Linked DNA regions of Homo sapiens. The protein of the gene in region 1 purifies or fractionates together with the protein of each later gene. This does not show direct contact. Each region holds a gene or a part of one and is shown on either strand. Other genes may lie near its edges. The genes, in order: TMEM230, ATP8A1 and ATP11B.

Region 1 (3,755 bases):
GTCAGTGTGAGGCCCACCCTAGCCTCCCAAAGTACTGGGATTACAGGCGTGAGCCACCACACCCGGTGGATGTAGAATTTTATCAAATGCTTTTCTAGCATCGATTGAAATAATCATATGGTTTTTGTCCTTCATTCTGCTGATACGATTTTATCACATTGATTGGTTTGTATAAGTTGAACCATCCTTGCCTCTCTGGGATAAATCCCACTTGGTCCTGATGAATGATCTTTTTAATGTATTGTTGAATTCAGTTTGCTAGTATTATCCTCCTTATTGAGGATTTTTGCATCAATGTTCATCAGGGATATTGGCCTATTTTTGTTTTTTCGATGTGTCTTTGCCTAGTTTTGGTATCAGGGTAAAACTGGCCTAGTAGAATCAGTTTGGAAGTATTCTCTCCATGTCTGTTCAGAATAGTTTCAGTAGGATTAGTATTCTTTTTTTTTTTTTTTTTTTTTGAGACAGGGTCTCATCTGTCATGCAGGTGTAGTGCAGTGGTGCGATCTCAGCTCACTGCAACCTTTGCCTCCCCGGCTTATGTGATCCTGCCACCTCAGCCTCACTAGCAACTGGGACCACAGGCATATACCACCATGCCCATCTAATTTTTGTATTTTTTGTCAAGACAGGATTTTACCATGTTGACCAGGCTGGTCTTGAAATCCTGAGCTCAAGCGATCTGCCTGCCTTGGCCTCCCAAAGTGCTGGGATTACAGGAGTGAACCACCATGCCCAGCCAAGTATTAATTCTTTAACTGGTATAATTCAGCAGCGAAACCATCTAGTCCCAGGCTTCTCTCTGCTAAGAGACTTTTTATTATGGCCTTAATCTCATTACTCTTTGTCTATTCAGGTTTTAGATTTTTTTCATTGTTCAATCTTTGTTTTTATATTCATGTCTGGTACAGCAGATTCCAGCAGAAAAACCAAAAAGATTTTCTTTTACATTTTGTTCTCTGTTGGCAAAACATGTTTTTCTTCCTTTGAGCAACAGTAAACTTCCATAGTTCCTATAGGGGAGGTGGTGGCAGGTAGGCAAACTTGGCCTCTGAGATATTAGACAGTTTGCCCTGTCATAGTTTGGAACAACATGGCTGAGCCTGGCATACAGGAGTCCTGATTGGTAAAGGGCTGTAGCTGGAGCAGCATGCTGTCATTGTAGCTGTGCAGTGCCATGGACATACTGTCAGTATTTGGAGAGAAATAGCAATTCTGTTATATGTGTGGGGTCACTGTGCCTCGTAAGTCAGTTCCTTCTTACAGTAGGTTTGGTTGGAGTTCCTGTTGAGCTTCAATATGAAACCTTAGAAACCTAAAGTAGTTGGTGGTTCTTTCTCATGGGCTGTCCCCACATACACAGTGTCCAAGTTGTCTTGAACCAATTCTGACTATAATTAACACACAACAGGGAACACAGCCAGCCAGGTGCAGTGGCTCAAGCCTATAATTCTAGCATTTTGGGAGGCTGAGGCAGGAGGATTGCTTGAGCCCCAGAGTTCGAGACCAGCCTGGGCAACATAGCGAGACCTCATCTCTACCAAACAAACAAATGTACAAAATGAGCCAGGTATGGTGACTGACACCTGTAACTCCAGCTACTTGGAGGCTGAGGTGGGAGGATCACTTGAGCCTGGGAAGTCGAGGTTGCAGTGAGCTGTAATCACACCACTGTACTCCAGCCCGAGCAACAGAGCAAGACTCTTACCTCAAAAAAAAAGAAAAAAGAGAAAGAAAAGAAAACCTGAAAGGCTGAGAAAAACACAGAGTTTATTGTAGTGGTATCTGTACAATTACAAAAGGTGAAAAACAACCAAAGTGTCCAGCAGCTGTATGTGGGGCAGTTAGGTAAAACTGTAGTATGTCCATTTCGGTGGAATGTTACACATCCTTACAGTTTAAATGTATGAAAAGGTTTTAATAATATTGGCCACAGGACACAGAGTATGGTGTGTTCACAACTAAGAGCTTTAAAAAAAGGAAAAGAAGCCAAAATATCTGGATGAGAATGGGTCATTTTTTTCTTTATAATTGTTAATATTTTGTAGTTTGTCTTCAATTTATAATCAGGAGGAAACCTTTTCCCTTGGTGGTATACAACTCAAAGAAAAAGTACTGAAGAGTATAAAATACTGATCTAAGGATTAGGTCTGTGACGTTTTATTTTAAAATGTGTAACTCTTACGGTACTAATGTGTTTGCCTCCTTCTGCCACCAGGGGGCAGACCGGGCCGTTCCAGTGCTGATCATTGGCATTCTGGTGTTCCTACCCGGATTTTACCACCTGCGCATCGCTTACTATGCATCCAAAGGCTACCGTGGTTACTCCTATGATGACATTCCAGACTTTGATGACTAGCACCCACCCCATAGCTGAGGAGGAGTCACAGTGGAACTGTCCCAGCTTTAAGATATCTAGCAGAAACTATAGCTGAGGACTAAGGAATTCTGCAGCTTGCAGATGTTTAAGAAAATAATGGCCAGATTTTTTGGGTCCTTCCCAAAGATGTTAAGTGAACCTACAGTTAGCTAATTAGGACAAGCTCTATTTTTCATCCCTGGGCCCTGACAAGTTTTTCCACAGGAATATGTATCATGGAAGAATAGAGGTTATTCTGTAATGGAAAAGTGTTGCCTGCCACCACCCTCTGTAGAGCTGAGCATTTCTTTTAAATAGTCTTCATTGCCAATTTGTTCTTGTAGCAAATGGAACAATGTGGTATGGCTAATTTCTTATTATTAAGTAATTTATTTTAAAAATATCTGAGTATATTATCCTGTACACTTATCCCTACCTTCATGTTCCAGTGGAAGACCTTAGTAAAATCAAAGATCAGTGAGTTCATCTGTAATATTTTTTTTACTTGCTTTCTTACTGACAGCAACCAGGAATTTTTTTATCCTGCAGAGCAAGTTTTCAAAATGTAAATACTTCCTCTGTTTAACAGTCCTTGGACCATTCTGATCCAGTTCACCAGTAGGTTGGACAGCATATAATTTGCATCATTTTGTCCCTTGTAAATCAAGATGTTCTGCAGATTATTCCTTTAACGGCCGGACTTTTGGCTGTTTCCTAATGAAACATGTAGTGGTTATTATTTAGAGTTTATAGCCGTATTGCTAGCACCTTGTAGTATGTCATCATTCTGCTCATGATTCCAAGGATCAGCCTGGATGCCTAGAGGACTAGATCACCTTAGTTTGATTCTATTTTTTAGCTTGCAAAAAGTGACTTATATTCCAAAGAAATTAAAATGTTGAAATCCAAATCCTAGAAATAAAATGAGTTAACTTCAAACATTTCAGAAAACATTTTAATGATTTTATGATATCTTTAATCCCAGTACCTAGATCTACCTTAGTTTCTAGGTAGCTGGCATTGTGGGTCACACTCAACTTTCCCTAACTCTGAGGTTATGGACTTGGGCAACTGGAAGCCTGGACATGCCATCAGCTGAGTTGCAAGGCTGTGGGAAGAGCAAGTTTTAGATGTCTACTCAATATCCAAGTGGAGCTGTTGAGGAGGCAGTTGCGATGCATGTGTGTGTCTAGAGTTTAAGAGTGGGTCTTGGATGGAAATAGAAATTTGGGAGTCAGCATTTGGACAGTATCTTAAAAGCTAGAGGGCTGTTTGAGATCACCAGTAGAGTGAGTATAGTTGGAGGAAAAAAAAAAAACTCAGGAAGTGAGGGACAAAGAGAGGGTGACCTGAAGCAGCCTCCAAGATTAGGGACTTTTGGTAATGGGAATGTTGA
Region 2 (3,655 bases), on another chromosome or scaffold:
CGACTTCCTCAAAGCAGTTACATATTTTAGTGTCCCTCAGGGTCCATGGGTCTGTAATGCTAGATCATTTAAAGAGTAGAGTAAGAAAGCAACTCTGTAAAAATGGCCCTTTCTCATTTCTCATATCTGTTTATTTCACTGACAGAAACAAGTTTTACAACTATTTGCAGAACTGCTGGAGTTTTAGATTAATTAGTTTTCTTGCCTTCATGTAGCTAATTTCCAATGACAATAAAATATGTCCAATAATACCAGTTAACCTCCCTAGACTTTAAAATATATATGTGGAAGATTACTACAAATGTTAACATTTCTAAATATTTTTTCTTCGGTTTTTGCCTAAATGTTTGCATAATTCATTTACACAATGAGTTCATTTTGCAGAGGATCCTTTTTTTGTATATGATATTGTTTCATTTCAGGGTCTTAGAAAAATTGGCAAAATACAGAACTAACATAACACAGCAATTTAACTAAAGCTTTTATAGTGGGAAAAACACAAGATGGAAATTTTTCAGCTGAATCAGTTCCAGTTATTAAAATTGCATAAACATTTGCTGCAACACATATGGATTACTTATTTGTTTCTCATGCCTATTATGTTCTTTAATATCAAAACAATTTTATAAAACAATGAAGAAATGGCATGATTTGGAAGATGGATGATGTCTATAAGTACATTTCAGAATTATTACTCAACTTCACGTATTCAACAAATATTTGAGTTTCTACTGTGTGAGACACTTTTATGGGAAGTTGGGGGAGAAGATGCCTTATTTTTTACAATGTGCTTTTAGAAGTTACATAATTATCTGGATTTGTATCTGAGGAGACAACTATTCTAAACACTTCCTGAAAAATACTTTCCTTGTTATTTCACCTACCATAATTATTTTTCTGAAAATAGTTTATTTTAAAATAAAATTAAGGAACACATGTCATACCATATTAGTGGTAGTGAACTTCTAGTTAAAAAGTCTATGAAATGTCTTCTTTGTGTAATGTTAGTTAATATTTACTTTAATATTTTTAACTAAAAAATAGTTTATACCAAAACGTGCCAAATGTGAAAAAAATAGTAATAACTAATTTTTTATTCTAAAAATTGCCATGCTTAGAATATATGTAGTCAGTTTTTAAAAGTGAATAACACTACTGTTGTTTTGTATTTTTTTATTTTAATTGTGTTATACTGGCTCTGTGTTGCCATTTGACTTAAATATAACTGAGTGGGGGGTGGTGAGGAGATCCTACTTTTTACTGGGAGAAGGATTATTGGGGACCAAACTCCTTAGGGAGAAAATGGCCTCAAAAGTCTGTCTAAATACTTGAAATTTCATTCGCTATCTGAGAAAATGTGTAAAAAGAATCACTAGGCTACGGATTTCTCGAGCAATCTTTTGTTTAAGTCTAACTCTCTTTGGTGGTCCTGTGGGCACACTGGGGTCTCTGCCGAGTTGATAATTCATTTCACACATTTGCACCTGCTCTGCAGCCTGACCGAGAGGGCGCAACTGCTCAAGAACGTCTTTAAGAAGAACCACGTGAACTTGTACCGCTCTGAATCCTTGCAACAAAATCTGCTCCGTGAGTATTTGAGTTTCTTATTTTTAAATAAATTCTCTGCCATTGCTGTATCATAGCATTTATACAGTATCCTGACTTTAGGGATATTTATTTAAAACTAATGTCTAAAATAAGTTTTGCATATTTGTAACCTGTAAATAACAGAAAATCCATTGGTCAGAACCATTTCACTTTCAACAGAAGAGATAGTTAATTTTAAAATCTTGCTGTTTCACTTAAAGAAAAACAGTATTTCCACATTCCTTGCTTCCTCAAATCTTTTTCTTTAAAGCCAGTAAATCTTAATTCTTAAAAGCTGCCCCTGTCTTGTTATCTTTTCTACTTGAATAACTTTGCAAGAGCCTTTCAGCTTTCATACAACACAAGGAAGCATATATTTTCCCCTTCAGAAATATTTATGAATATTTAGAGTTGTAAGACATTATTAGATATTGTGCCCTCTTAACATTTCAAGATCTAAAAAAGAATATAAAATGTAAAGCCCTGTAGTAAATGTATTTGTGTGAGTAATATATCTTTTGTTTCATGTTGTTTCCACTTATAATTTATTTTCACTTACGTATACTCATGTCTAATGCTTTTGCTCTTTATACTTCAAGAGGCCTTTTCTAAAGATGTGATCCCCTTGGGGGCCATTCCTTATGCCCATGCCATGTCGGGGCGTGAGTGAGTTTATTTGTGATGCTGAGAGCCAAGGGGAATGTCCTCTGAAGGAAGGAGACCACTTGCCACCATGAGCAGCTATTTGTGTTTATCTCCTCCTCCTCGCCTTTTTAAATTGACAAACAATAATTGTCTATATTTATGGAGTACAAGGTGATGTTTTGATGTACAGTTGGCCCTTTCTATCAGTGGGTTCCACATCTGTGGATTCAGCCCGCTGTGAGTCAAGTATATTCAAGGGGGAAAAAAAAATTCACAAAATTCCTAAAAGCAAAACTTGAACTTGCCATGGACGAAATACTACATTGAATCCACTAGAATGAACTGATGTGAGGGCATTGTATTAAGTATTATAAGTAATCTAGAAATGATTTTAAGTCTACGAGAGAATGTGTGTAGGTTATATGCAAATACTGTGCCATTTTATATAAAGGATTTAAGCATCCGTGGATTTTGATATTTAAGGGGGTCCCTGAAGCCATTCCCACAGATACCAAGGGACCGTACATGGTGGGATGGTTGAATCAATTACATTATTCACCACCTCACCTACATATCACTTTTCCTTTCCTCTCATCCACCTGACCTATGTGGAAATATGTGAGCCCACTTGACTCAACTCCCTCACCCCCTCCAGAATTGGGGAAGCAAAAATTAGAAGAGTTGGAGTTGACTTACGGGACAGAGGATTTAGGGGAATTGAGGGTGCCTACTCAGTCTTCTAGAGAGAAGAATACCTAGAATCTAAACTGGCAACCTAAGATCATCCCACTCTTTATTTTGAAGTTAAGTCTGTATCTTTTCTAGGCATTAAAAATCAGTGTCTCCATGCTTTTGAATGTGGGAAGGCTGCATTTGTTCCCCAGGCTAGAAAATGAATACCCAAAAGTCAGAATAACGGTGGTTTCCAGTGCCTTTGTGAGAATTTCTGTTTTATCATTAACCTACAGATGGGTATGCGTTCTCTCAAGATGAAAATGGAATCGTTTCACAGTCTGAAGTGATAAGAGCATATGATACCACGAAACAGAGGCCCGACGAATGGTGATGGGGAGAGCCTGAAAGGCAGGCTCTGTTACCTCTCTAAGGAGAGCTACCAGGTTGTCACCGCAGTCTGCTAACCAATTCCAGTCTGGTCCATGAAGAGGAAAGGTAGATCTGAGCTCATCTCGCTGATGGACATTCAGATTCATGTATATTATAGACATAAGCACTGTGCAACTGTACTGTAACACCATCTCTTTTGGATTTTTTTAAGGTATTTGCTAAGTCTTTGTAAACGGAAATTGAAAATGACCTGGTATCTTGCCAGAGGGCTTTCTTAAACGGAGAATAAGTCAGTATTCTTATGCCATTACTGTGGGGCTGTAACTGACTGTCAGTTTATTGGCTGTACCACAAGGTA
Region 3 (3,655 bases), on another chromosome or scaffold:
GCACAATCATAGCTCACTGCCGCCTTGAACTCCTGTGTTCAAGCAATACTCCTGCCTCAGTCTCCCAAGTAGCTGGGACTAAAGGCAGGCACCGCCATGCCCAGCTAATTTTTAATTTTTGTAGACACAGGGTCTCACTATGTTGCCCAATCTGGCCTTAAACTCCTGGCCCAAAGCAATCCTCCTGTGTGTCTCCCAAAGTGCCGAGGTTACAGGTTTGAGCCACCACACCTGGCCTAGAATGTTTTTCTTATACTAAATTTTATAACAGAGAAACTCCAGGAAAAAAAGCAAAATAAAGAATATCTGAGAATAAAATCTTTCAACTATGTTTATAAACTCAAATCTTGAGTTTCATTTTGATATTTTTTAAAAAATACACGTTTACTTCCTTTTGAGAATAAAAAAATTAAAATTAAACAATAAAAATGCACATTTCTAGTAAAAACTAAGCTAATTATGAATATTATCTTGCTTAGAATGATCAGCACTCGGGCCGGGCATGGTGGCTGACGCCTGTAATCCCAGCACTTCCGGAGGCCGAGGCGGGCGGATCATGAGGTCAGGAGATCGAGACCATCCTGGTAACACGGAGAAACCCCATCTCTACTAAAAATACAAAAAATTAGCTGGGCGTGGTGGTGGGCGCCTGTAGTCCCAGCTACTCCGGAGGCTGAGGCAGGAGAATGGTGGGAACCCAGGAGGCGAACTTGCAGTGAGCTGAGATCGCGCAACTGCACTCCGCCTGGGCGAAAGAGCGAAACTGTCTCCAAAAAAAAAAAAAAAAGAAAGAAAGAAAGATCAGCACTCAGACAACTGCAGAAACAAAATGAAGAATAAACAGCATGGCTAAATCTAGAACCCCACAGCAGTCGATGTTGACTTGATAAATTATTTCCAAGGGACCAGATGCAGTTAGTCTATCAGGCAGCTTCTAGTCTCTTAGATATAATGCAGACCAACACTCTGAAAATAGAAAACTCACAGAAAAAAAGCCTGGGTAAAGTCATAAAGTCCTTAGAATCAAAAACTTTCTTGAATCTGCCTATGCCAGGCATTATATATTGTTACCATAATCTAAAACAATGCTGTAGAACAGAAATATGGCCTAAGCCACATATGTTAATTTTCTTAGTTTCCACATTTAAAAAAAGGTAAAAATAAACAAGTAGCATTTAATATTTAACCAAATACATGTATATTTATATAACCCAATATAATTTCAACATGTAATCAATTAGAAAATGAATGAGATATTTTACATCCTTTTTCCAAACTAAGTCTTCAAGATCCACTGCATATTTCATTCACACACATCTCAATTCAGAGTAGACACACTTCAAGTGCCTACATTTCGACAGCCATATGTGGATACCATGTTGAATAGCACAGGTCTAGAAAACATTTAATGACAATAATGGTAATCATAAGGCTCTTTAGAGGATCTGGAGCAAGGTCCCTACTTCAGTGTTGCTGGGAATACCTGAGTTTCCTCTAATGCTTTATCCTCTTCCTAACCAAATGCAAAACTGCGTATCTAAGAATATATGTCTGAAAATAGAGATAAAGCAGCACATACTCACAGATCTAGGTTCTTAAACATTAATTCTTGAGGTTAAAACTTATCCACAAAAAAAATACCACCCTAGGCCAGTGCTTCCTTTTTCTATTCCTTCATTCATTCCTTGGAAAAGAGGCAGAGAATGCAGGTATTTTCAAACTGATGCTGAATTAGATCTGATACTCATTCATTTATTCAACCAACATTTGGCAGGTGAATACCTACAATGGGCCAACTGCTGTCTTGAGTGTAAGGAATATAAATACAAGTAAGATATGGTTCTTATCCTAAGATATTTACAGTCTAGTCTAGTAAGTGAGATATCTAGACTTCCACAATGTGTTCTGTAAAAACAGGAGCTCACTATTCTTTTCAGACGGTCTCACTCTGTCACCCAGGCTAGAGTGTGGTGGCATGATCATGGCTCACTGCAGCCTCAAACTACTTGGGTCAAGTGACCTTCCCACCCTAACCTTCCAAGCAGCTGAGACTACAAGTCAGTACCACAATGCCCAGCTAATTTTTTTTTCTTTCCTAGAGACAGGATCTCACTATTCTTACCAGGATACAGGAATTCACTTTTAATGTTATACAGCAGCACTAATAGAAATAGAACATGAGCAACAGATGCAAGTCACGTAGGTAACTTTAAAATTTCTAACCACTTTAAAAAAAGTAAAAAGAAACAAAATTCCAAAAATTTATTTTACTTTACCTATATATGTAAAATATTATAATATCTCAACATGTAACTAACAAAAAAATGAGAGTTCTTTTTTCTTTTTTCTTTTTTCTTTTTTGAGACAGAGTCTCCCTCTGTCACCCAGGCTAGAGTCCAGTGGCATGATCTTGGCTTACTGCAACCTTTGCCTCCCACGTTCAAGTGATTCTGCTGCTTCAGCCTCCTGAGTAGCTGGGATTACAGGTGCCCATCACCACGCCAGGCAAATTTTCGGATTTTTAGTAGAGATGAGGTTTCACCATGTTGGCCAGGCTGGTCTCGAACTCCTGACCTCAGGTGATCTGCCTGTCTCGGCCTCCCAAAGTACTGGGATTACAGGAATGAGCCACCTTGCCCGGCCAGGTTTTACATTTTTTAATACTGTTTTTGAAATCCAATGTGTATTTTATACGTAAGAATAACTCTACTCAAACTAGCCACATTCCAAATACATCAGCCAGCACAGTTTTATAGATCTGTTTTTCAGAAAATTAAAAAGAATTTGCCAGTTACAGGTACAGGAAAAAGTAGCAGAGAGGCTTGAACATGTTCACAAGTTAAGAGAAAAAGTAAAGAGAAAGAAAAGAAACATACTAATGATAACTGATGGAGTATGGACAGCAGAATGAAAGAAAAGGATCAAAAGCTTAAGTGGAATTGTTATCTTGGAAAAGAGGGTTGCATCTTCCTTGTGACTGTGAAGGGAAGAATTAAGTACCAGTATAAAATATAAGCAAGTTCGGTGAGTGTGAGGAAGAACAGAAAGTTGAGGGAGTTCAGATTAAGACCTTCTCATTTTTCTCAGTTAATCAGAAGACAATCTTAGCAGCCTCCTACCACCATCGCCAATACAATCTAAAGGGATTACATTTATGGAACAGTTTAAGAAACAGTTATCCTAGTAATACTGTTTTTGTGTAATTACTCATTTTCTAACTTTTTTCTGGGCTAGTCAATCTTAAATTTGGTCATTTTTGTCTCTAAACACAGAAACAACACTACAGATTCATTCTTTCTTTCCTCATCTATTAATTATTTGTTCAGCAACATGTATCCAATGTCTACTTATGTAGAGTATGTGTGACCCTGACCAACATTTGTATCCCTGGTATTCAGCATCTGTTAATACCAGCACACAGCAAGTGCTTTAAAAATGTAGTATTACATTCAAATATGTACTGACACAGACTTTCATTTAAAAGTCTAAATTGGTGCTGTCCAATAGAATTTTCTGTGATAATGAAAATATGAACTGTCCAATATGGCAGCCAATGGCAGCCAATAGACACATGAATTCAAATTTTAATTTTAATACCCACATATGGCTCCAATTTTAATTTTAATGGCCACTTGTGGCTAATGGCTACCGTACA

What was found.
Region 2: the proteins of TMEM230 (region 1) and ATP8A1 purify together in Homo sapiens (affinity purification with western blotting, with the first as the bait; one study listed by BioGRID). This does not show direct contact.
Region 3: the proteins of TMEM230 (region 1) and ATP11B purify together in Homo sapiens (affinity purification with western blotting; one study listed by BioGRID). This does not show direct contact.

Annotation. Positions count from the first base shown.
Region 1 is NC_000020.11:5,099,395-5,103,149, reverse strand, and holds the end of TMEM230 (transmembrane protein 230), read left to right. Parts: intron 1-2,218; coding exon 2,219-2,359; 3' UTR 2,360-3,300; downstream 3,301-3,755.
Region 2 is NC_000004.12:42,412,559-42,416,213, reverse strand, and holds part of ATP8A1 (phospholipid-transporting ATPase IA), read left to right. Parts: intron 1-1,495; coding exon 1,496-1,587; intron 1,588-3,200; coding exon 3,201-3,298; 3' UTR 3,299-3,655. UniProt on the Homo sapiens protein: Catalytic component of a P4-ATPase flippase complex which catalyzes the hydrolysis of ATP coupled to the transport of aminophospholipids from the outer to the inner leaflet of various membranes and ensures the maintenance of asymmetric distribution of phospholipids.
Region 3 is NC_000003.12:182,796,414-182,800,068, reverse strand, and holds part of ATP11B (phospholipid-transporting ATPase IF), read right to left. Parts: intron 1-3,655. UniProt on the Homo sapiens protein: Catalytic component of a P4-ATPase flippase complex which catalyzes the hydrolysis of ATP coupled to the transport of aminophospholipids, phosphatidylserines (PS) and phosphatidylethanolamines (PE), from the outer to the inner leaflet of intracellular membranes.